Linked DNA regions of Homo sapiens: regions 2 and 3 are each linked to region 1. Evidence: fine-mapped expression QTL. A gene starts in region 1. Each other region holds a variant in brackets. All regions are shown on one strand. Distances are from middle to middle. Region 1 holds the start of WDR45B (WD repeat domain 45B). Region 2 holds the start of METRNL (meteorin like, glial cell differentiation regulator). Region 3 overlaps WDR45B (WD repeat domain 45B).

Region 1 (8,158 bases):
GTGTTAGCCAGGCTGGTCTCAAACTGCTGACCTCAGGCAATCAGCCCGCCTTGGCCTCCCAAAGTGCTGGGATTACAGGAGTGAGCCACCGCGCCCGGCCTACTGTAGATTCTTCTCTTGCCCCGAGCGGTAACCACCATCTCCAATTCTGTGCAAACCATCCTCCTGGTTTTCTTTATATGTTTATGTGTGTCCAAATATGTTGTATCTTTAAACAATACATCGTTAGGCCAGGTACAGCGGCTCACGCCTGTAATCCCAGCACTTTGGGAGGCTGAGGCAGGCATATCCTTTGAGCCTAGGAGTTCAAGACCAGCCTGGGCAACATGATGAAACCCTGTCTCCACTAAAAATACAAAAAATTAAGCTGGCATAGTGGTGTGTACCTGTAGTTGCAGCTACTCAGGAGGCTGAGGTGGGAGGATCTCCTGAGCCCAGGAGATATATACATATATATATAAATACATATATATGCGTGTGTGTGTGTGTGTGTGTGTATAATTTCTATTCTCTCCACCCCCAGAGGTGAGACTCTGCTTTCTGCCTGCCTTGGAGAAGGGTGGGCGAGATGAGCCGTGTCCCTCACTCCAAGTCACACTTCAGGTCTTCCACGTGGAGACCTCTGAGCTATCAGTGGACGGCGGGATTCCTGGAGCTGCTGGAACAAAGCCCCACAGGCTGGTGGCTTGGACAACAGCCTGTGTTCCTTCCCAGGCTGGGAGGCTCTGGGGAAGAACCGTTCATGCCTCTCCCGGCTCCTGGTGACCCCACGATTCCTGCACTTGCTGACTTAGGGCTGAGCACTCCAGTCCCACTGGCTGCTGTCCCCTGTATCTCCTCCATTCCTGTCTCCTCCAAGGGTGCCGGTCACCAGCTTTAAGGCCCACCCCAAATCCAGGATGATCTTATCTCGAGATCCTTAATTACTTCTGCAATGATTCTTTACCTAAAGAAGCCCCTATTCTCAGGTTCTGGGTGGACCTATCTTTTTTTTTTTTTTTTTTTGCGACAGAGTCTTGCTGTGTTGCCCAGGCTGGAGTGTAGTGGCACAATCTCAGTTCAGTGCAGCCTCAGCCTCAATCTCCTGGGCTCAAGCCATCCTCCCTCCTCAGCCCCCCAGGACACATCTTTAGAGGGTCACCATTCAACGCACTGTGGTGGGCAAGGCTGCTTTGAGTTTCCTGGTTAGGATACAACCAGCGCTGTGTGTGGATGTCCACACATGCCCCCGCCCCCGGCTGTACAGCCACCGGGAGACTGAGTAAAATGTGAACTGAAGGAGGCCCCAAGGGTGGCAAGCAGAGAAATGAAGGGAAATGTCCCTTACCCACGCCTCTCTCCTTCCCCCACGTGACACTTCTCACAGCAGGTACCGGTACGTGTGCACAGAGGAGAACCCAGTGCCCTTCAGGGAAGAGGGTGCTGAGCCCCTGGACCGCACTTAGGTCTCGCCCCAGCTCTGTGATTTGGACCTGGGCCCCCGAGCCCTAGTCACAGCCGGGGCGGCCCAACTCGCTCCGCCATCGGAAGGCTTCTGGTCGCTCTCAGGGAGGAGCCCCTCTCGTATGGGAATCGAGGTGTTCAATGCCCACGATGCGGAGACCGCCTGGCCCGAGTGGGCCAGTGATCTCAGCTTACAGTCCAGCTCCTTCCTCCCCATGGCTAAGAGGTCAGCACCAGCTCAGGCAAGTGGCGAGGGTGGGATGAGGATGACAGACGGGGTGGAGGCAGGTGGCTGCGAGGGGACAGTGTCAGGACCTCCTAGGAGATCAGGTGTGCTGCAGGGAACAGGGAGAGCCTAGGAGGGGACAGGAAAGTGAGGAGGGGGAGTGGAGAGGACTCCCTGGGCAAGAGACACGAGGGCCAGCACTCAGGCCTCCACAGCCATCCACTGCATGAGCCAAGCCCAGGGACAAAGCTCTGTGACCAGGATGCCCCCAGCAGCCTGACCCTAAGAGTTGAGAACTGTGCCCTGTGAGCAATGTGACCTGAGGGTCCCGGAGTCCTGCGGGGGCTGTGCTGTGTGAGGGCCACCTGTCCTTTAGGTGGGGTACTAAGGGGTTGTGTCCTCTATGGGCTGTGTCGTGGGGGGGCTGTGTGTCCTCTGGGGGGCTATGTGTCCTGGGAAGGTCCCTGTGTCCTGGGAAGGTCTCTGTGACCTGGCGGTCTGTGTGTCCTGGGGGGGCTGTGTGTCTTAGGGGGACCTCTGTGTCTTCTGGGGGAATATGTGCCCTGGAAAGGACTCTGTGTACTGGGGGAGGCTGTGTGTCTTAGGGGGGCTGTGTCCTGGGGGGGTTTCTGTGTCCCGGGGGGGCTGTGTGTCCTGGGAGTGCTGTGTCCTGGGGGACCTCTGTGTCCTGGGGGCACTGTGTGTCCTGGGGGGACCTCTGTGTCCTGGAGACTGCGTGTCTTGGGGGTCCTCTGTGTCCTGGGGGGTCTCTGTCCTGGGGACTGTGTGTCTTGGGCACCCTCTGCGTCCTGCAGGAGCTGCGTGTCCTGGGGGGGCTGAGTGACTTGGGGGCCCTCTGTGTCCTGGGGGTCTCTGTCTCCTGAAGGGGGACCCTAGTATTGTGGCGCTTCTGGGCTTGCCTCTCATGAGGGATGATGCACCGGGCCTCAGTTTTGGGTCAGCCTCCTTTACCGGCTCTCCCCCCTTCCTCCGACCGTCAGGTATCCGTGCCAAGCCCTCAACGGGCCATCCTCCTTCCCGCGGCGACCCCGCGCATGACAAGGCCAGACCCTCCCGCGAACGTGCTCTGCGCTCCCGCCTGGCCCCTCCCCGCCCCGCCCCTCCCCCTCCTCCCCGCCCCGCCTCGCTCCGCCCCTCCCCGCCTCCGCCCCGCCCCGCCCGCCCTGCCTCTCCCCGCCTTTCCTCGCCTCGCCCCGCCCCGCCCCGCCCCCTCCTCCCCGCCCCGCCTCGCTCCGCCTCTCCCCGCCTCATCCCGCCCCGCCCGCCCTGCCTCTCCCCGCCTCATCCCGCCCCGCCCGCCCTGCCTCTCCCCGCCTTTCCTCGCCTCGCCTCGCCTCGCCCCGCCCCGCCCCTCCCCGCCCTGCCTCGCCTCGTCTCGCCTCGCTTCGGTTAGATGCGCTCGGCGCTCCATAGGCTCCCTGGTGGGGCGCGGGCGCGCGCACGGACGTCCAGCACGCACGCACGCACGTCCAGCACACACGCACATCCAGCACGCACGCACGTACGTCCGGCACTTCCGGCCGCGGCGGCCTCAGCGCCGGCCCGAAGGGACCAGGCCGCCGTCCCCAGCGAGAGGCATGCAGCGCTGAGGAGCGGCGACCCAGCACGGCGGCGCCATGAACCTCCTGCCGTGTAACCCTCACGGCAACGGGCTGCTCTACGCCGGCTTCAACCAGGACCACGGTGAGGAGGCGCGGCCCTGTCGCCTTGCCCGGCCGGGCCTTCCCGCAGCCCGGGGTCCCCGGCTCTCAGGCCTCTCCTGGGCGCCCCTTTCCGGCCAGGCCTTCCACCCGGGACCCCGGCCCCGCCCGAGCTCCCCTCCGAAGCCCCCGGCCCCGGCCCTCGCCGCTGCTCCCAGCCCGAGCCGGGGTCCGGACCAGGCCCGAACCGGCTCCCACCTTCCTGGCCTTTCGCGCTCCCCCACCCCCCGGGTTGTGACCGCTCCCAGCCGGCCGTCCCGGGCCGAGGTCGAGGTCGGTGGGAGACGGCACAGAACCCCAGCCTCCTGCGCGGACGCCCCTCCCCGCGCGCCACGCCCACTCGGGTTCCCTGGCTCCCTGCGGGCTCCACGGTTATCGGGATTTTCCCCACAGCGTGATTGACGCCCTGCCCAGAACCCCGTTTTGCCCCCTGTTCCTTTCAGGGTCTTTAGTAGGTAGCCCGTGGCTGAGCTGACTTCGCTTGGGTTTACTGGAGCCGCGGAGCCGGCGTCTCCGACGCCTCTGGTGGCGAGTGGCGCGGGTGGGGTGCAGGTCTCACCTTTCCCGTCGGTTTCCATCGGAAAATGTCACTCTCCCCACCCCCACTCCCCGGGATTTTTCTTCGTGTTTGGTGGAGTCAAAGGACTTAAGGGAGGCCTTTGAGGGAAATCTTACTTCTTTTCCCATGTCGGAATCCAGGTGTAAGCACTGGATGATTTAAAGCGCCCAGGGAAGGTGACCTCCTTCCCCGCAGGTGCTTCGGAGCTGCGGGGGATGCGGCCGGGGCGGCGCGGTCGGATTCCCGCGGGAGGCGGGCGGGACCTGGATTCGGATGGTTGCCTCCTCACCTCCCATTTGAAGGGCGCGCTTCCCAAAGGTCCTGATGGGGAGGAAAAGGAATGTCCGTTATTCCGAGACAGGCTTCTGCGAGGCTTTACATGTTGGCTTTGGAAGTTTTGTTTTTGAAGAGAATCCAGGCAGGTGCTGTATGATCCCGTATATGTGAAGACAATTTTATTTATTTATTTATTTCATTTTGAGACGGAGTCTCATTCTGTCGCCCAGCCTGGTGCGATCTCGACTCACTGCAACCTCCTCCTCCCGGGTTCACGCCATTCTCCTGCCTCAGGCTCCTGAGTAGCTGGGATTACAGGCGCCTGCCTCCACGCCCGGCTACTTTTTGTATTTTTAGTAGAGACGGGGTTTCACCATGTTGGCCAGGCTGGTCTCAATCTGACCTCAGGTGATCCACCCGCCTCGGCCTCCCAAAGTGCTGGGATTACAGGCGTGAGCCACTGCGCCCGGCCGGATTACACATATTTGAAAGAACTCCCTCTCAGTGATTTTGATGCCTGATGCCCTGGGACCAGTCAGGCTTCCTGGGCGCTGCCAGCTTCCCCAGGGTTGTGTGCTGGGGTTTCTCCGGAAGAAAGTTTTGCTGAGATGGTAAGGGAGATGCCTAGCCTTCTCAGAGGGTGGTTTCCAACCATCTGGTGTTTGTAATGCCTTCTTTTTAGTGAAGTGTGCTATACCTGTAGAAGGGTGGATATATCATAAGTGTTCAGGTGATGAATTTTCCAAACTACACACCTGTCACTAACAATTAAGAAATTGAATATACCTGGCCACGCTTGATTCCAATAAATGCTCCCTACCTGACTTGTGACATCATAGATTAGTTTTGCCTACTTCTGTACTTTATTTTTGTACTTATTTTTGTTTCTAGCTGTTTTTTTGTTTTGGGTTTTTTTTTTTTTTTTTTTTTTTTGAGACGGAGTTTTCGCTCTTGTTGCCCAGGCTGGAGTGCAATGGCGCGTTCTAGGCTCACTGCAAACTCCGCCTCTCAGGTTCAAGCAATTCTCCTGTCTCAGCCTCCCGAGTAGCTGAGATTACAGGCATGCACCACCATGCCTGGCTAATTTTGTATTTTTAGTAGAGACTGGGTTTCTCCGTGTTGAGTCTGGTCTTGAACTCCTGACCTCAGGTGATCCGCCCACCTCGGCCTCTCAAAGTGCTGGGGTTACAGGCGTGAGCCACGGCGCCAGGCTGTTTCTAGGTTTCTTACTCAACATCATGTTTGTGATTTTTTTTTTCCGTATTGTTGAGTATAGTTGTAGATCTTTTTTTTTTTCTTTTTCCGAGACGGATCTTGCTCTTGCCCAGGCTGGAGTGCTGTGGCGTGATCTCAGCTCACTGCAACCTCTGCCTCCTGGGTTCAAGCGATTCTCCTGCCTCAGGCTCCCGAGTAGTTGGGATTACAGGTGCCCGCCACCGCTCCCGGCTAATTTTTGTATTTTGAATAGAGATGGGGTTTCACCGTGTTAGCCAGGATGGTCTTGATCTCCTGACCCTGTGATCCACCCACCTCGGCTGCCCAAAATGCTGGGATTACAGGTGTGAGCCACCGTGCCCGGCCAGATCATTCTTGATGTACAATGTTCTTTTGTGCAGACATACAACAATTCATATATCCAGTCTACCATGGTTGGGCATTTGGGTACGTTCCAGTTTTTGGCTACCATAAGCATAATATGAGTAATAAGAGTAATGATTAATCTAGAAGATGTCTCTCAGTGACCATATGTTCACATTTCCACAGGCATGTACTTCTATATACCTAGGAGTAGAATTGAGAGTATAGTAGATAGTACAAATAGTTTTCCAAAGTGGTTGTACCACTTTGCCCTCAACTAGCAGGTCTAAGAGTTCCCATGGCTCTACACCCAGCTCACATTTGATGTTTTCTCTTATTTTTGGTCATTTTGGTGGCTGTGTACATCTCTCTGTTGTTTATTTGCATTTTCCTGATTTTGTGTTTCTTGACCACTTGGATATCCTCTTGTGACATGTCTAAGTCTTTTGCCCATTTTTCTATTGAGGATTTTGCCTTTTTCTTGTGGATTTCTAGGAGGTGGTTTGGGTATTTCTATTTTTATTTTTTATTTTTGTTTTTTTTTTTGAGACGGAGTCTTGCTGTGTTGCCCAGGTTGGAGTGCAGTGGCGTGATCTGAGCTCGCTGCAACCTCCCCCTCCTGGGTTCAAGTGATTCTCCTGTCTCAGCCTCCTGAGTAGCTGGGATTACAGGCGCTCACCACCACGACTGGCTAATTTTTTGGTATTTCTAGTAGAGACGGGGTTTCATCGTGTTGGTCAGGCTGGTCTCGAACTCCTGATCTCAGGTGATCCACCTGCCTTGGCCTCCCAAAGTGCTGGGATTACAGGCACATGCCACCATGCCTGGCTAATTTTTGTATTTTTAGTGGAGGGTAGGTTTCACCATGTTGGCCAGGGTGGTCTCGAACTCCTGACCTCAGGTGATCCGCCCACCTCGGTCTCCCAAAGTGCTGGGATTGCAGGCGTGAGCTGCTGCGTCCGGCCTCAAATGGGAGTTTTAGAGGCCTTTGTGTTGGGCTTTCACACCACTTGTGCAGTCATTGGAAAGATCCAGACTTTGCAACATTTCATGTGAAAAATAATTGAGGGGTTTGTTTTTTTCTCTTTCCAGCCACAGCTTCATAGAGCCAACAGTTGGACATGGCATTTAAGGAGATGGATGTAGTCCCTGGGTCACACACGAGCATTAACACACGATCATCTACGCACTTAAGTGCTTTATTCAGTTTCTAACAGTGCTGTTTATTTGGACCATTAACAGCCTGCTGTGTGACTTGGAGGCAGTGACCAGGATGAGTGACCTGGGTAACTCATTGAGACTCTGACAGGATTTTAAGGAGTTAGGATGATTTATAGGTGGGAGCAAAGTCACGGGAGACCACCCTGTAAATGGGAAAGAGCATCCTTTCCTCACCTTCCCGGTTCCTGGAGTCTAGGACTACCTCTTGTCTCCCCAGCACCCTGCCCTTCCCTTCACCTGGTGTCCACAGTGGGCGGGATTGCCTGCTTGGTGGCTTTCCTCTAGAAGTGTCCTTCACGTTTGTCACTGATCGTCCTCCAAGCCTGGGCCATGGGGATGCCACAGAAGGCCCCTGCAGTGGGGAAGTTGTGTGAACAACTCCAAGACTCCTTTGCTAAAGGACAAACAAAATGCCCTGCATGGATGTGCTTGTCACTTAGTAACATTTGTACAAGGACAGGAGTTGTGACTTAGCACCTATCGTGTCTGTGTGGTTTGAGCATCTGCAAGAGTTCTCAGTAGTTGTCATTTCTCCAGACCTCTTTCTTTTAACCACTCCAGGCCTGGGGATTAATGTCTCTTTTACACTTCTGCTTTAGGATGCTTTGCGTGTGGGATGGAAAATGGATTCCGAGTCTATAACACTGATCCACTAAAAGAAAAAGAGAAACAAGGTAAGAATTAACGGGACATTTTCTGGTTTCTCCCCTTTCCAACCCTCGGAGTCTTAAATTTAACCTTGCAGGTGGAGCAGGGAAGGGATGGCTGTTTTCGAGAAGTAAATAGGGTTCATGGCCCCTCATAAACTTGGAGGGAGCTGTCCTCTTTCTTTCGTTGAGCTTCTACAGGTGCTGAGGGATACAGGTGTTGAGCAGGTTTGTTCACTGGCCTGATTTCTCTAGTGAATTATCGATCAGCATGAACTTCTTGTGCCTTTTCCTGTCACATCAGGGATTTTTGGCAGCAGAAACCTCTTTTCAAGTAAAGTCTTACCTGTAACCCTGGGATGTAGAACAGTAAGTGGTGCTTTATGTCTGGGAGTTTATTTTGTAAGTCAGGGTGCATTTCCTCAGCCTGCATCCATGCTGTGTACGTTTGAGTCCTGGTTCTGCCCTTTACCAGGTTGCTGTGCGA
Region 2 (8,176 bases), 430 kb before region 1:
GCTTCGCGTGGGAGCGGCGGCGGCTCCCGAGGGGCAGTCGCGGTCGGCGCCGCTCTCGGCGGCCACGCTTGAGTCAAAAAAAAAAAAAAAAAAAAAAAGTCCTCGGCCGCCACCGCGGGTGGGGGGGGGGGGGGTCGCCCAGCGCAGCGCGCGCCGCGGCCAAGGGCGGCCTGACCTTCACGGGGCAGGGGCGGGGGGCCCGGCCGGAGCCACACTCGGCCCGGCTCACAGGTGCCCGCCCGCGGCTCCCCGAGACGGAAGTGGCCCCCGCTGCGGTCCGCGCCCGATCCCCGAAACCGCCGCTCCCTCCCGCGGCCGTCCCTTCCCGCTCTGGCCCGGGGCGGCCTCGGGGCGCGCAACTCCCGGAGCCTGCCAGGAAGGGCCCGAGGACCGACCCCCGCCTGCCCCCGGGATGGGGTCGCGGGACCGGCGGCCCCCGAGGCTCGGACACGCGCGGAGCCGGGACCCACCCGGCCGCGCTGCAGGCGCGCCTCCCCCGGGCGTCCTCCGGGCCGGGAACCGGGACGCCGCGGGCTCTTTTGTTCTAGAACCGGGGGCGGGGGACAGCGGGCACCGGACTGGGCCTGGAGAGCGGCCCCCGGAGCCCCTGCCCCGCGCCCGCCCCCGGCCGCGCCCCCGCACGCTCGGCCGGCCCGGGACGGGAGGGGACGCGAGGGGAGGGGGCCGGGCCGGGGTCGCGCCGCGCACACTCACCTCCCCTTCCAGCTGCACCGGTCGCTGGAGTACTGCGCGCCCGCGCCGCCCAGCAGCCCGGCCAGGAGCAGGAGCAGCAGCGGGAGCGGCGGCGGGGGCGGGCCCGGGGCGGGGGGTCGCGGCCACGGCTGCCCCGCGCGCCCCCAGGCCGCCCGCGCCGCGCCCCGCATGCTCTGGCGCCGGCTCCGCCGCCCGGCCCCGCGTCCGCGACCCCCGGAGCAGACCCCGGAGCCGGCGAGCCGGGCGGGGGCGGGGCGGGCTTCGAGTCCGGGTGGTCACGTCGCGCGCCCCCCGCGTCCTCCGCGCGGCCGCCCGCCCATCCCGGCCCGCTGGAGCCGCGCGCAGAGCTCCGCGCCCGCCGCCGCCGCCGAGCCTCTGAAGTTGGCGAGTCCGAGTCCGCCCGGCCGGGCTCAGCTGGGGGGTGGGGCCCACCCGCCGCCCCGCCCCGCCCCCGACCCCGCCCCCGACCCCGCCCCGCGCCGGAAACTCCTCCCGGGGCGCCCGGCCGGACGCGCAGACACCGAGTCAGCAGCGAATCGGGGGCGCGGGCGCCGGGGCGGGGGGCGCTGCAGGAGGAGGGGGCCGCGCCGGGCGGCGAGCGGGGTCCGGAGGGAAGAGCCCGGCCTGGAAAGCGGAGTCCGGGGCCGGAGGGGTTGCAAGGCGAGGGCGGGGCGGAAACCCGAGACCCCCAAGTAGTGGCCGACGCGAGCCGCGGTCGCCCCCCGCAGACCCCCGCGAGGCGGTGCCGGGGCCGCATCCTGCGCCCCATCCTGCGCCCCATCCTGCGGGCAGCCCCGGCGCGGAGCGGTAAAGGAGGCTCCCGGCCCCGCCGGTTCTGGGTCCCCCGCGCCTCGCCAGCGGGCGGTGATCAGGGGCGATCCGGGCGCCCCGCGTTCCGCAGAGTTGGTGCCTCGGGAGTTCCCGGCTCCCTCCTGACCGGGGGGGAGGCCCGGCGGTGAGCCCGGCTTCCCTCCCTCCTCCCGGAGGACGTGCAGCCGCCGCGCCGGGGCCTCTGCCGAGCGCTGCCCACTCCTCGCTCCGGATACGCGGGGCCGGGTGGTTCTTGGGGTGGGGACGTCCTGCGCATGGTGGGATGTTGGCAGCACCCTGGCCCCCGCACTCTGGGTATCAGTAGCAACCCCCGCCCCAGCTTTGACAACCTAAACTCTCTGCAGATTTGGCCAAATCCCGCCCCCACCCCGTGCCCGCGGGGCAGAATCACCTGCGGAGCGTCCTGCTCGAGTGTGTTCCTCGGAGTCGGCGCCTTCCCCAGGTGGTCACCGCGGCCACCACGTGCCTGACCCAGTGGGGGGGACAGCGGAGACCCCCGCCCGGACTGGGGAGGCCCTAGAGACTCAGGCCAGAGAAGGGGAGCCAGAGGGTGCCGAGGGCCCCCCAGGCAGGAGAGGGCGGAGCTGGCCCGCCCGGCGGTCCCCGCTGCGATGGCAAAGCTGGCTTCTGTGTGCTGCGGGTCAGTGGCCCTGCCCGAGACGCCTGGTGTCAGTTCCAGAGCCGAGCGCAGCATCCAGCGGTGGGGAAGCTTGGCCTTGTCCCCTTTTCCAGCCAAGATACCTTCCAGGAGGACTTGCGAACGACCTGTGCAAGTCTGAATAACTGGGTTGTGACTACCAGAGGAGGCGGGGAGAGGGCTTTGAAAATTGTGAGTCTGCAGGGACGGAAGTCACCGGCAAAGGCAGGTGGAGCCCAGCCCCCAGCCCAGGAAAGCTGGGACAAGGGTGAGGGTCTGAAGAACTGGAAGGCGATGACAGTGACCACTGAAGGTAGTTTCATTGTAAGGATCTGTTCAGAGCACCCACCCCATCGAAAGCCTGGAGCCAGGACCTTGCCCAGCACATCAAGTGACATCACCCTGAGGCTCAAGGTCTGGTGGAGGTGCATTTCGGAGCTTGGAGACTGCCCCACCCACCCCCGTCTGCTCTAGGAGTGCACCTCCCCCCACCCCCATCACTGCAGGTACCAGGGTGCCCAGTGGAAAGGGACCTGCTGTGGAAAGGGACCTGCTGTGGAAAGGGACCTGCGGCTTCACACCTGTGCGCAGCAACTGCTTTCCATGCCCACCAAGCATAAGATAGCAGCCCCCCCAGGCCCGGTCCACCCTTGAAGGGCCACATGGCCTATCAGGGTCCAGATCATCACACCACGGAAGAGGCAGGGCAGTGCTGGGATCTCTTGAGTTATAGATGCGGACATGGGGAACTCAGGACCTGCCGTGACCTGCTCAGGGTCTCAGAGCCCCTGGTGGCTGCTAGACCGAAGGGGAGAGGCCGCCTCTGGTCAGCAGGCAGCTGGTTCCAGCCTAGGCTGGGGCAGAGATCTGCCACCTGGCAGGATGCCCAGCCTCCTGTGCCCAGCGGGCTGTCCTAAGACTGGGATCGTACGATGGTGAGTATGGGACCCACGTGTACTTTTCAAAACCCGTAGAAAATACAGCACAAGAGTGAATCCTGATGGAGGCTTGAGACATTTGTAATAATAACGGATCAATATTGGTTCTTTGACTGTCACACGCCTACACCCTAATGAGAGAAGGTAATCATAAGAGAAACTGGGTCAGGGAGAGGGTGTGTGGGGGACCTCTACCATCTGCTTGGTGTTTCTGTAAACCTAAAACATTAAGTCTGCTAATTAAAACAAAACAAAACTAGAGTAAGAATGCTTGCTGGCCAGTATTCTCGGAAGAAGCTAATCTGTCTTGGGAAAGGAGCCTGGCCCTTTCCACCCTGGGGCTGTGGTTCCCCAAGCTGTTCCCTTGAGGAGGTTCATGCCCCAGAGACATTGGGTGCTCCTGGGCACCTCTGCTGACCCCTGTCCTGGCCCAGCGAGGCCACCTACAGGTGAGACGTCCCCTGTAGACGGGGTTCCTGGTGTCAGGAGGTATCAGGCTCCTAGAGGATGCAGGCTGAGGTGGTCAAGGCTGTCTGGGGGTGTTCCCAGCCACTGGTACACTGCCCCTTGTACCACCAGACCCCGAGAGGCCGATTATGAACCAAAAGGATCCCAGCTGGTCATGGTGTGTGGCCCTCCCCCTGGTCCTCTGGGAGGGTCTGCAAGGAAAGGGCCTTGGGTGTGTTTGTCCCTGGATGTCTGGGAAGGGACTGCTTCCCAGTGAGCATGTCACGGGGTTAGACCCAGGAAGGGGCCACAGCATCATCCCACCCACCCACTCGTGGGAAGGAGCTGGTCTTCGCAGCTTTGCGTGAAGCTCTGATACTTCCTACCTGAGTCGGAACGTTGAGGCTGAGCCGTGGAATCGGAGAGCTCCAGAACCCACCAGGATCACGCCTGCCCATTCCCTCTACCGGCGGGCCCTGCAGTGATGCTTCTGCATCCTGGGAGATGGCA[G/T]CTAAGGGACCTGGGCCAGGGGGGCCTGTGGCCCAACCGTAGGTCTACATCAACCCTCTCTCTTTCCTCATCTATCCATTCCCTCGAGAAACAGCTCTCAGAAGCCTCCTGGGCAGACGTCCGTGAAAAAAATTCTGGGTGCACCCTGGACAGTCCTTCTGTGCCTCACCAGGGTCTGAGGCCTCAGAAAGCAGGACGTGGCCTCCCATGTCCGAGGACCACGACCCACTGTTAGGATCGAGTGACCTCGGCAGGGTCACCTCTGTGTATTTGACCCGGGAGTTTTTATCGCGTGCATTGCAGGGACCCAGCACCTGGGAATTTGCTGGGGTGGAGGGCTGTGGGACTGGACCCCTTTCTCGGCCTTTCCTATGCCGGGTGCCTACAGGCCCTGTGGGGTGGTGGACGGACCTGGCTCGGACGTCAGCCCCCAGCTCTGGGTCACAGACATGGTGGGGTTGGAGTCTGTTTCTGAGCCTCAGTTACCTGCAAAGTGGATCTGTTCTTGATTCCCAGGGCGTCGTAGGGTTTACGATGTCAGGATTCAACGCCACGTCCCCAGGTGGGGGCTGATTCTCACCTGTTCAAGGCACCACCGGGCTGTCATCAGGCCTTGGGGCCCTCATGGGGCTGGGTGGGGGGAACCCCTCCCGCCGTGCTCCCCACAGCTGCGAGTTCTCTGAGCCACTGGCACAACCCGGTGGACTTTACTGCTTTTATTTTTGGCCCAGTCTTGAGGTTTTCAAATGTGTGTTGACGGCCAATGTGCTGCCCAAGATGACCAGTCACCTGAATCCACTCACTAAAGAAACAGCTCCTCCCAGAGTAGCTGGATTCCTCCAGAAAAACATCACACGGTTTCCCCAAGCGCGTCCATGAAATTTTCTCTTTCAGCATTTGAAAAATACTGAAGAACGTCGCAGTCTGTCGTTCACGTGAGCACAGTTCATCCCACGGCCCCGCCCAACCACCACCTCCCAAGTCATTTGCCACCCGTTTCCCTCCCAGGCCATTTTCGCCAACCTTCTCGTAATTATCGTAATTGTGGTTGAATGATACATGGAGAGCCTGTGCTTGTAACTCAACTTCAATGAGCAACGTGTAATTACTACACGAAACAGCCACGGATGCCAGCCAGCCTCCACCTGATGACCTTCAGTGTGTCATTCTTCCCTAACCCCCTCCTTAACCTAATTTGCTGCCATGTGCTGCTCTCTGTGCGTCAGAGAAAAGTGGGAGTAGGGAGTTTCCTTGAGTCAGATACAAGTCCAGGCCGATGCTGGCCGGCTATGTGACCTTGGGTGGTGCTTGCCCCCAGGTTGGCCAGGTGGAGAGAGGCCACCAGCCGCCAGCTCGGCAGTGAGAGACAGTTCTGTGTGGCACGCTGGCCCCACACCGTCCTAGCAGTTGTTTGTAGCAGCTGTTCATGGCAGCATCTCACCCTCCGCCCGGCCATGAACCGACCATGGCCCCAGGGCTGGTGAGCTGTAGTGACTCTGCCATCTCGGGCACTCAGACCCCACAGGGAAGGAGGGTCCTCGGCCTCCGCGGGGTGGTGTCAGGAGGGGCCATCTACAGTACACGGTGGATTTGTACACAGAGGTGGACGTCTGCGTGGACCCTGACCACGGCCGGTCAGATGTGCTCAGGGGCAGGACCGTGAGCCCAGTGATGACGTGCTAAGGTCCGGCCGGCCGGCCACACACAGCAGGTCTGCGGTCACCCAGGACGTCAGCCGAGGGCCTCAGCCCACTCGTTCTGGAGGACGCTCACGGCAGAAACGCCTCGGAAGGAGCCGGTATCCCCACGGCCTGCGGGGAGAGGGAGTGTCCCATATGCCAACTACCGAAGGCCTGAAACTCACAAACGTTGAAGGCCAGTGTGCAGGGCACCCACGCATCCCCCGGCTGCGGCCGAGGGCTGTTCCTCTGTTTTGGCATTTCCCCTGAGCCACGTGGGAGCTGCAGAGGTTGTGACCCTTTGGCCCTAATCATGGGAGCAGGAGTCACCCCTCAACGGGGACAACGTATGGTGCCATCCAGCGCCGTCGGCACACCCAGCTTGCCGTGTGGAGACGGTGCCCCTCCATAGAGTAAATGCACGCCGCCTTGTTCCCCGTGGGCCCCACACTTGACTGCTCATCACCGGGCTGGGCCCCCTCTGACAGGCTGGGCAGGGCACAGGGTGGTCCCTCCCAGGGTTCACTGGTTGGCATCAGAGACCAGAGCCCCGCTCCGTGGCCCTCCTGGCAGCCCGCCCCACTGGCATCTGAATTCTGGAAGGCACCTCTCCCAGGGCCACCTTGGCCACCCTCTAGAATAAACAGAAAGAGGGGGCTCTGCTGCCTGGGGCTCCTCGTGGGCTCAGATCGGTCGGCGTGTCTCACTGAACAGTTTGGGCTCCTTTTTTCTTGCAAGTTTATAATCGAAACGAAGAGCTTTTTTTCTCTGCTTCTGTGGCCTTTGGTTTCATGCTACAGGAAGGCATCTCCCAGACCCCAGTGGGGCCTGCCGACAGCGGAGGCACGTGGGGGTGTGCGAGGGGCTGTGCCCTGTTCTTGCTGTGCCCCTCTGCCCCTGGCACCACCCCGAAGGAGGCAAGGCCTTGTCAACATCTGTTAAGCCGGGAACCGGGGACCGCCCAGGGTCAGATGGGCTGGAGTAGCCACACTGCAGGAAGCTGAGGGCAGACAGAGCTCTCTCCTCCCATACCCCACTGGGCTGGGTGTCCCGGGGAGGGTGGACGTCCAGATGCTGGGGCACCTAACCTGGACCGGGCTGGGCAGCTGCCCAGCGCGTGGGGAAGGGCGGGACCGTGGTCGGCGCAGTCACCACCAGGACCTGCCCCGCCGGGCGGGGTTCTGCCTCCTCCTCCAGTCCACAGGGCGAGTCTCCACGGACAGCCCCAGGGACAGGCCCTCCCCACATCGACGCTGCGCCTGGATGACTCAGCCCAGGCAGGCGGGGGTGGCGGTAGACACCCTCACCAGGAGCCTGTCCAGTGGGGCCCTCCCATGCAGGTAATTAGCCCGGCTGTCCTGCCCCTGAAAAGAGGCCGGGTAGCCCAGAGCTGCCCCCAGCTGGAGGGGCTGAGAGCTCTGGCTGTGGAGCGTGCGTGGGATGCGGGGGCGCTGGAGGCACAGGGCAGCTGTCTCACATGTCCGTCCCTTTCTGCCCACGCTGAGATAGTGAAGAAGGCCTTGACAGCCATTTGGACAGACGGTCCCACCCAGAACGAGGAGAAGCAGGCGACACCCAGCTCAGCGGACAGTGGGCAGGCACACTGGCAGGCAGGGTCAGGGGATCTGTCTCCCGAGTCACCTGTGTGCCAAGACACCCCACTGCGTCCCCAGGCTCCAGGGTTTGGGGAAGGGTGTCGGTGGGGCTGGGCGTGCAGGGAGCGTCCGGGGGCCAGGTCACGTGGACTTGGCCGATCTTGGAGAGAGAACTGGACCCCCACAGTGTCGAGTAGATAGGGGCCCAGCGGGGTGGGGCCCGAGCAAGTGAAGGCGGGGGTGGGGCAGGGCCTGGGTGTGCCTCCCCAAATCCAGCCAAGCTGGAGTGCACAGGGTCACCCAGGGATGCTGGCTTCACGCTCTTCCTCCAGCCATGCCTGCCTGGACTCGGCGGAGGAAACACTCCCTCCAGAAGCCCCTCCAGGCAGGCAGGAGCGAGGCCAGCTGGTGGGCTTTCTCCTCGGGAGTGGAGGGGTCCCTCCCGTCCACACGGCAGGTGCTGAGCACCCTACCCCAACCCTGCCTGCTGCAACGTGCGGGCCCAGCCTTGGCGCCAGCTGTCCCAACAGGGACCTGAGGACCCATGTGCCTTCTCCTGGAGAGGTGGCCAGGCCTGTGCCGGGGCTCCACTCTACTCCCAGTGGTGCCAGGAGGTCCCTGCAGCCCCAATGCCAGAGCTGTGCCTCCGCTGAAGCTTGCGGAAGTGAGACGGCCCAGAGGGACCCGCTGTCCAGACCCAGGATGGTGGACTGTGCGTCCTGGGCCTCAGTTCAGGCTCATGAAAGATGACTGAGCCCCCTCCGCCCCCGCCCCACACCCTCCAGCCCCCACACCCCACCATGCCCCGCACCGCACCAGCTCCCC
Region 3 (8,167 bases), 33 kb after region 1:
GGGCACCTCCAACTTCACCGGAGAAGAACTTCGGGCTGACAGCACGGAAGTGGGCCTTTGGGATTTGGGAGAGGGGGTAGGAGCAGCCACCCTCCCCCGAATAAGGCCAGAGGAGGGAGAAGCTTGGGCTGCTAGGGGGTTGGGTTTCAGCTTTTTAAATTGTGATTAACTTTAAGTTTTTATCGTGGGAAATTACACAGAAGTAGAAAGAATGTCATAATTAACCCTGCTTCAGCATTTATTAGTATTTGATGGTTTTTGTTGTTGGTGGGTTTTTTTTGTTGTTTTTTTGGGGTTTTTATTTTGAGGGAAGGTCTTGCTCTGTCGCCCAGGCTGGAGTGCAGTGACGCTATCACAGCTCACTACAGCCTCGACCTGGGCCCAAGCGATTCTCCTGCCTCAGCCTCCTGAGCAGCTGGGACCACAGTTGTGCACCACCACGCCCGGCTAATTGTTGTGTTTTTGTAGAGGGGTCTCGCTGCTGCCCTGGCTGGCGGGCTTGGGTTCATCCCTGTTTATTTTTAGTCTTTCTGGTGTTTTTGCCAGTTTCATCTCGTCACCAGCGCTCTGGCTTGTGTTTAAGGCAATGCTGGAGACCATGTTGGTTTGTCTGATTCCAGCCTGTTACAGTCTGAGAGGCCACACTGCCGCCCCACAGTGGTGTCCCTACAGCCCCCCGGGTGTCTAGTGCTGAAGCCCTACTTGGGTAGCATCTCATGCCCTGTGGCCACGGCCAGGAGGCCTGGTGCCTCCCCCTTGGCTAGTATTGAGCAGCATTTGGGTCTTTGAGATGAAAATGTAATTAATATAGCCGGGCGCAGTGGCTCCCGCCTGTAATCCCAGCATTTTGGGAGGCTGAGGCAGGTGGATCACCTGAGGTCAGGAGTTCGAGACCAGCCTGGCCAGCATGGCGAAACCCCATCTCTACTAAAAATACAAAAATTAGCTGGGCGTGGTGGCGTGTGCCTGTAATCCCAGCTACTAGGCAGGGCTGAGGCAGGAGGATCGCTTGAACCTGGGAGGTGGAGGTTGCAGTGAGCCAAGGTCGTGCTACTGCGCTCTATCCTGGGCAAGAGAGCGAGACTCTGTCTCAAAAAAAAAAAAAAGAAAGAAAATGTAATTAATTTATAAATACGGCAGCTTTATCTGTGAGGTCCTGGGCCTTGTGGTGTGCATAGCACATCCCTGTCTGCTCCTAGAACAGACAGCACACGGCCAATGCCTGCCCCAGCCCAGCTGACCTCCATAGGGGCAGCCTGCACCTTCCTGAGGCCAGGATCATTGGAGAGAATGTGTGTTTCTCACCCGAGTCTTGTGAGAGCAGCCCTGAGCGGCATGTTGGGGGTGTGGTCTGCAAGAAGTCCCTTCCCTCTCCCAGACACACAGCTCATCAGCTGCATTTGTGGGGCACCCAAGGAAAACTTGCCGTGATACACTGGATTGTGGCTGTGGCTTTGTGGCTTCAACCTGTGGTGCTGTGGGGATGGTTGTCGGCTTGTTAAAGAAAGGGCAGTATTCAGAATTGGCACCTCCAGAGTGGGAATGTTGAGGTGTTCCACAGTGTCGACAAGTGCTGTGGGTTAAGTCTCTGGACTCCTCCACATCCACACAAGGCCTGAGCTGTGCTGGTTTTCTCTGCAGCATCAACTTCAATCAGGATGCGTCCCTCATCTGCGTATCCAGCGACCACGGCACAGTGCATATTTTTGCAGCTGAAGATCCAAAAAGGAATAAACAGTCCAGGTAGGTGTTAGGATGCCTGCTGGGGAAAAGCCGGGGGATGAGAGGAGTCCCCAGTGTTTCAGTGTGGACGGGACAGGCCCCCCACCCCAGCAGGGTGGTGTGGACAGACCTCATATGCTATCAGCGCTGAAATCTTTTTCATTTAATTTTATATTTGTTGGGGTTTAAAAATCAGTGCAGGCTGGGCACAGTGGCTCATGCCTGTAATCCCAGCACTTTGGGAGGCCGAGGTGGGCAGATCACCTGAGGTCAGGAGTTCGAGACCATCCTGGCTAACATGGTGAAACCCCATCTCTACTAAAAAACAAAAACTAGCCGGGCGTGGTGGCGGGTGCCTGTAGTCCCAGCTACTCGGGAGGCTGAGGCAGGAGAATCGCTTGAAGCCGGGAGGTGGAGGCTGCAGTGAGCCGAGATTGCGCCCCTGCACTCCAGCCTGGGCTACAGAGCGAGACTCCGTCTCAAAAAAAAAAATTTTTTTTTTAAATAAAATTGTACAACAGGCTTTGTCATGCATGGCAAAAAAAAAATTCATTAAAGCTCAAACCATATGAAGGAGCATTTTCGTATTTTCAGCAGCGTATTCTGAGCTTACGCAGGTGATTTTTTTTCCTGTAAACTTTGAACCACCCTTTCTTTTCTTGTCTTCACAGTTTGGCCTCAGCCAGTTTCCTTCCAAAATACTTCAGTTCCAAGTGGAGTTTCTCCAAGTTTCAGGTTCCCTCAGGCTCTCCGTGCATTTGTGCCTTTGGAACAGAGCCAAACGCCGTCATTGGTGAGTGGTCCTTCCTGGAGAGAACGTCCCCACCCGCCCCACCTGGGCTCCATCCACTGAGCGTCAGACCTAACTTCCCATGGACGTCCCAGCACCGCGCTGTGGCACCGATGGCCGCCCAGTTCCCCTTATTTCTCCTGTGGGCTCAGTGTGTCCCGCTTACGGTCTGCACGGCCATTTGGGATGTCTTCAGCCCCCATCCCTCCAGTTTCCCCCAGGAAATCACAGGGACAGGTCTTCCAATGTTTGTATAGATGACCAAGAATGTTTCTTAACCCTGTAGCCAACACCGGGTGATTAGATGCTCACACCAAGACAGTCAGGATTCCCGGCCACGGTGCCGACCGAACGCATTCAGTGGGGACCCTGGGGCCTTTCAGGGCTTTCAGAGCAGCTGCCTGGCTCCAAGAGGCCCTTTGCAGTTCAGCTCAGTGGGACTCGTTGCTTTTAACTTGAGGGAAAGAAACACACAGGTAAAATGGTCTCCTTCTATCCCAGCAATTTGTGCAGACGGCAGCTACTACAAATTCCTGTTCAACCCCAAGGGGGAGTGCATCCGAGATGTCTACGCGCAGTTTCTAGAGATGACCGATGACAAGCTGTGACTCCAGCTGGGGGCGCCACAGCACCCACCACCTGCCGCCTTCAGACTCTCGGGGCTGGTGCCAGTGCCCCAGGGGCCTCCTGGGCCACGGGCTGGAGGGGCTGCCCAGGGACCTTGGTCTCGAAGCCATACGTGGTTGTCTGCTTTCCTAAGGACTCCCATTTCCAGTATTAAAGAGAGAATCATCATCAAGGCACCGTAGGTAACTCAGTGGCTGTGACCAGCTCGACTGGCGGCCACTGGCTGTTCCCATGAGTTCAGCTGTGACGTTAGCTTCAGTGGCTCCGCCGCATCCTCACACTGACGGGGGCTCCATACGGACCTGGGGACTGGGCTGAGAGGGTGGACGAGTTCAGGTTTGTTTTTGCAGCAGATTCCGTCGTTCTTACTGAGTCTGCAGCGGGGGAGTGAACAAGTGTGCAGATGTAAGTTCTTACATGATAAGCAGATTGAATACAACACCAGCAGCTTGCCTTAGAAAAGGAGAAAGGAATTCCTTTTCCCGCCCGAACATGAAGAAAAATGACCTGACCCTGTAGAGAGAACACAGTGTGAATGTTTCCCCTCGTGTGAGCCCAGCCTGTGGTCTTCTCCGTACCCGCAACGTGGTCATCTGTGCCCGTGACGTCACCTGTGCCCGTGCGTGGCGTCCCCGTCTCCGTTGGGGCCATTAGAATGAGGCAGACACCAGGCCACTCTAGAAGCCGAGCCGTCACACCTCAGGCGTGTGCGGGGCGGGGACGGGGGGTCTCCTGGTTACATTTTGGATTAAACCTGTTTCCCGGTTATGTGTAGGGAACAGCAGAGTGATGCACGAACTTTGAACATTCGTTATGGGGAAAACATCCTTTAACTTCGGGGTCGTCTGCCAGAGCAGGGTCTGGGAGGGTCCATGCAGTTCCCGCTGGTGTGGAGGGAAATGCCCTGGTCTGGCCTCCGAGCCCCCAGGTCCACCGTCTCCCCTCCCCTCATTTGTAAGAATAGCTACACACTAACATTTTGGGAAGGAGAGGCACATAACTTTTTTTAACATTTGGTAACTAGGTTATGGGCTCTACATTGTCAGCTACTTGGGATATATATTTAATTTTCTTAAATTCCCGTTAAACTCTATTTTATGGTTTTGATTTCAGATTGCAAACATGTAAAACCTGCATAGCAGCGAGT[T/C]CTCGGTTTTGCCGGTTTCTTTAGTTCTTTACTGTCACTGTCATGTAATCAGCTAATTCTCTGTGGATGTTGCTGTAAAGTATGCATGTTCCTTTCATGTGTATTTAATCATGATGTTTAATTTTGCACACTTATTTGTAATGTTTCTTTTAAATAAAAGTGACTAATTTTGTTGTAGTCTGGACCTGTAATGGGAAGTAGAATTGTGTGTTATGAAGCCAAACACTCTTCCCCTTGCTGTGAGAATCTGGTTGGAGTGTAGGCTTCAGAACAGCCTGTGGGCCTGAAGAGGCGCCGGCCTGTGACAGGACAAGGTGGAAGCCAGGGTCACTGGGTGCGGAGCCTGGAGCTTCACTCCCTGTGTCGGGACAGGACAGCCTGCCCTCCTCATTCCCTGTGTCGGGACAGGACAGCCTGCCCTCCTCACTCCCTGTGTCGGGACGGGGCGGCCTGCCCTCCTCACTCCCTGTGGCGGGACGGGGCGGCCTGCCCTCCTCACTCCCTGTGGCGGGACGGGGCGGCCTGCCCTCCTCACTCCCTGTGGCGGGACGGGGCGGCCTGCCCTCCTCTCTCCCTGTGTCGGGGATGGGACGGCCTGCCCTCCTCTCTCCCTGTGTCGGGACGGGGCGGCCTGCCCTCCTCTCTCCCTGTGCCCCAAGGGCACCTCTGGAGGAGGGAGGGAGGAAATGCATCTGTAGGAGGCCTGTGTGGCTCTGGGAGGTCTGAGGCTCCTGCTGGCCTGTGGAGGTGGAGGGTGGCTGGCAGCAGCAATGTCCCTGCATGTTGAAGTGGCAGCTTCAAGTGAGCCGGCGTCACCCTGGCTTGTCTAACACTTGAGATCTGACTCTGGGTGGGGGAGTAGGAGCGTAATTACCAGTTGATAAACATGAATCTGGGGGAAATGCATGCAAGAAGGGTGGGTTTTCTCGCAGTGCACGTGAACAGCCTCAGAACTGATGCGGACGGCGGGGCTGTGTCACAGGCCCGTTCACCAGGAACGTGGCGAGGGCCTGCACGGACGTGCCTCATGTGAGGCCCTGGCGGCACCGGCCCTCCCCAGGCATGTGCTTTTTAAAAATCACTGTAGAGCGGCAAGGACACGGTGTCCCTAGGCCGGCGGACTCGGGAGCGCAGCTGCTTTTCAAGTGGAACTGATGGGAAGCGCAGTGTATGGGAAACAAGGCCGGGCTGCTGCCTCCCCCACGAACCTCCTGTGCCCCGGACGTGGGTGCGAAGGGACTCCAGAGTGACTGCCTCAGACGGTGCCTACTCAGCAGCTTTCCTGTCTGATCGTACAGGTGCGTGGGCATGGATGACTCCGGCTGCGTTTCTGGTCTGTCCTCCCTCCCCTGTGGCCCTGGGATGTCTTGCGGGGACAGGCGGCTTGTGCCCTGTGGAACGCAGCCCTGACCCATACCCACCCTGTGTTTGGCGTTGATGCCTGTGTGAACCCCTGGCCACCTCCCGCTCCCACCACTGTAGTCGGGGGCGCTGGCCATCTGCAGCCTTCTGTGATCAAAGAGTTTTATATTTGTGTTTTCTTTCTGCAACCAAACCAAGCCCCTGAATGCCAGAGCTCTTTCACGTGACTTAGTCCTCATCTCTCTTCTGTTGTGTCAGAGGCATTTGGTTGATGACATTGTTGAAACTTGTACCAAAATTTTTCTCTTCCAGATGGATCAGAGAATACAATGAAAAAAAAGTTCCTTATAAAATAATAGAAAAATATAAATTTGTAAGCAAAATTGCCCCGTGTTTCTACCTCCAGAGAAGATCACTCTCAGACAACCCCACACCTGAACGTAACATCTATTTTTATTTAAAAAATTGTTTTGGTAGAGACGGGGTTTCTCCTCCACCTCCTGGGCTCAAGCGATCTTCCCACCTTGGCCTCCCAAAGTGCTCGGATTACAGCCACCACGCCTGGCCGCCTTTTTTATTTCAGATACATTTGTCAGTTCTAAAGTTGGTTTCTAATTCGTGGCTGATGACTTGTGTCTGCCCATTTGTACGCGCTCTGTGCGCTTTCAAGTCCTTGTCTGCCGATTCCAGCATCTGGGTCTTCTTGGAGGATGCCTCCTGATTTTCCTTTATTGAGTGGGGACTTGGGGGTGACCCTGCCTGCCGCTAGGAATGGCTGTTGAATTTTGTTAAGTGACTTTTCTGCATCTGTTGTGATGATCACACCTATCTTTTACGCCGTGAACGTGGAGCATCACGTTGATTTTTGAATGTTGAGCCAACCTTGCTGTCCTGTGGGAAAGCCCACTTGGTCACAGTGTGTTATCCTTAAATACTGCTGAATTCGCCAGGCGCGGTGGCTCACGCCTGTAATCCCAGCACTTTGGGAGCCTGAGGTGGGTGGATCACCTGAGGTCAGGAGCTCGAGACCAGCCTGGCCAACATGGTGAAACCCTGTCTCTACTAAAAATACAAAAATTAACCAGGCGTGGTGGCGCGTGCCTGTAGTCCCAGCTACTTGGGAGCGTGAGGCAGGAGAATCAGTTGAACCGGGCAGATGGAGGCTGCAGTGAGCCGAGATCGCAGCACTGCACGCCTGCCTGGGTGACAGAGACTCTATCTCAGGAAAAAAAAAAAAGAATTCTACTAATACTTGGGGATTTTTTTTTTTTTTGGATGTATATGTATAGAGGATTCTTATTTCTAATTTAGCTTGTAATATTCTTGCCGCATTCTGGAATTTCGTATCAGGTTAGTGATTTTGTGGTTTTGGCATTAATTTTAAAATGATTTGTCTTACGCAACATCCACCAAAATGTAGACATACAATGGGTTTTAACAAAAGCAAATGTAGACTTGAGACTGAGGTGGCATCTAGTGAAATGTCATTTCTTTTGTAGCTCTGTTCAAGAGAGACGCCACCGTCTGTAGAGGCCGTGAATCCCCCGACATTTGCTCTGAGCCTCCCACAGACACCTGCGGCCCCATCTTGAGTTGTCCATGCTGGCTGCCAGCCAGAAGCCTGTCATCTGTGTAAGATGTTTCAGATGGTGAGTCTGACGACGCTTCTGGGGCATGCGAGCTGAGGGCTAATTATCTCCTAATCTCTCTCGGGTATGTGGAAAAAACAGGCAAGGATCTGGCCAGATACTGTGGAAAAGGGTGTCCTCCTGACCTTGATAGCAGAGTGTAACTCCAGAAAATCAGCATTTTTCTACCTCAGTTTCAGTATTTGCACAAGGGACTTGAACTTATGTCTCACATTATTTTTACCATTATCAGCATATACGACAGCTGCCTATCCTTTTTTTTTTTGAGACAGGGTCTCACTCCAGGCTGGAGTGTGGTGATGCAATCTCAGCTCACTGCAACCTCTGTCTCCTGGATTCACGTGATCCTCCCACCTCAGCCTCCTGAGTAGCCGGGACTACAGGCGTGCACCACCACGCCCGGCTAATTTTTGTTATTGTTTTGTAGAGACGGTGTCTGTGTTCTCCAGGCTGGTCTTGAACACCTGGCCTGAAGCAGTCCTCCCACCTCAGCCTCCCAAAGTATTGGGATTACAGGTGTGAGCCACCGTGCCCAGCCGTGCTTCTTTTTTTCTTTTTTTTTTTGGCTCTGTCACCCAGGCTGGAGTGCCGGGGTGCAATCAAGGCTCACTGCAGCCTCGCCCTCCTGGGCTCAAGTGATCCTTCTGCTCCAGTTTCCCAAATAGCTAGGACCATAGGCATGCACCACCATGCCTGGCTAATTTCTTTATGTTTTGTTTGTTTGTTTTTGAAACGGAGTTTCGCTTTGTCTCCCAGGCTGGAGTGCAGTGGCTCAACCTCGGCTCACTGCAACTTCCACCTCCCGGGTTCAAGAAATTCTCCTGCCTCCACCTCTCAAGTAGCTGGGATTACAGGTGTGCACCACCACGC

What was found.
Region 2: its variant is fine-mapped to the expression of WDR45B in whole blood (Lepik 2017, PIP 0.92).
Region 3: its variant is fine-mapped to the expression of WDR45B in monocytes after LPS (Fairfax 2014, PIP 0.95).

Annotation. Positions count from the first base shown.
Region 1 is chr17:82,643,489-82,651,646 of GRCh38, reverse strand. WDR45B (WD repeat domain 45B) reads left to right here and starts at 3,203. Exons shown (of 10, transcript NM_019613.4): 1 at 3,203-3,373; 2 at 7,624-7,698. The coding sequence starts at 3,307. RefSeq lists enhancers at 2,611-2,680, 3,059-3,558 and silencers at 2,971-3,040, 3,641-3,690, 3,701-3,750.
Region 2 is chr17:83,072,524-83,080,699 of GRCh38, reverse strand. It overlaps METRNL (meteorin like, glial cell differentiation regulator), which reads right to left and starts at 1,091. Exons shown (of 4, transcript NM_001004431.3): 1 at 715-1,091. The coding sequence starts at 884. The variant G/T (reference allele first, on the strand shown) is at 4,078.
Region 3 is chr17:82,610,872-82,619,038 of GRCh38, reverse strand. It overlaps WDR45B (WD repeat domain 45B), which reads left to right. Exons shown (of 10, transcript NM_019613.4): 8 at 1,642-1,743; 9 at 2,394-2,515; 10 at 3,014-4,477. The coding sequence ends at 3,120. Among named protein-coding and RNA genes, the nearest start is that of FOXK2-AS1, 27 kb to the right of the region's middle. The variant T/C (reference allele first, on the strand shown) is at 4,287.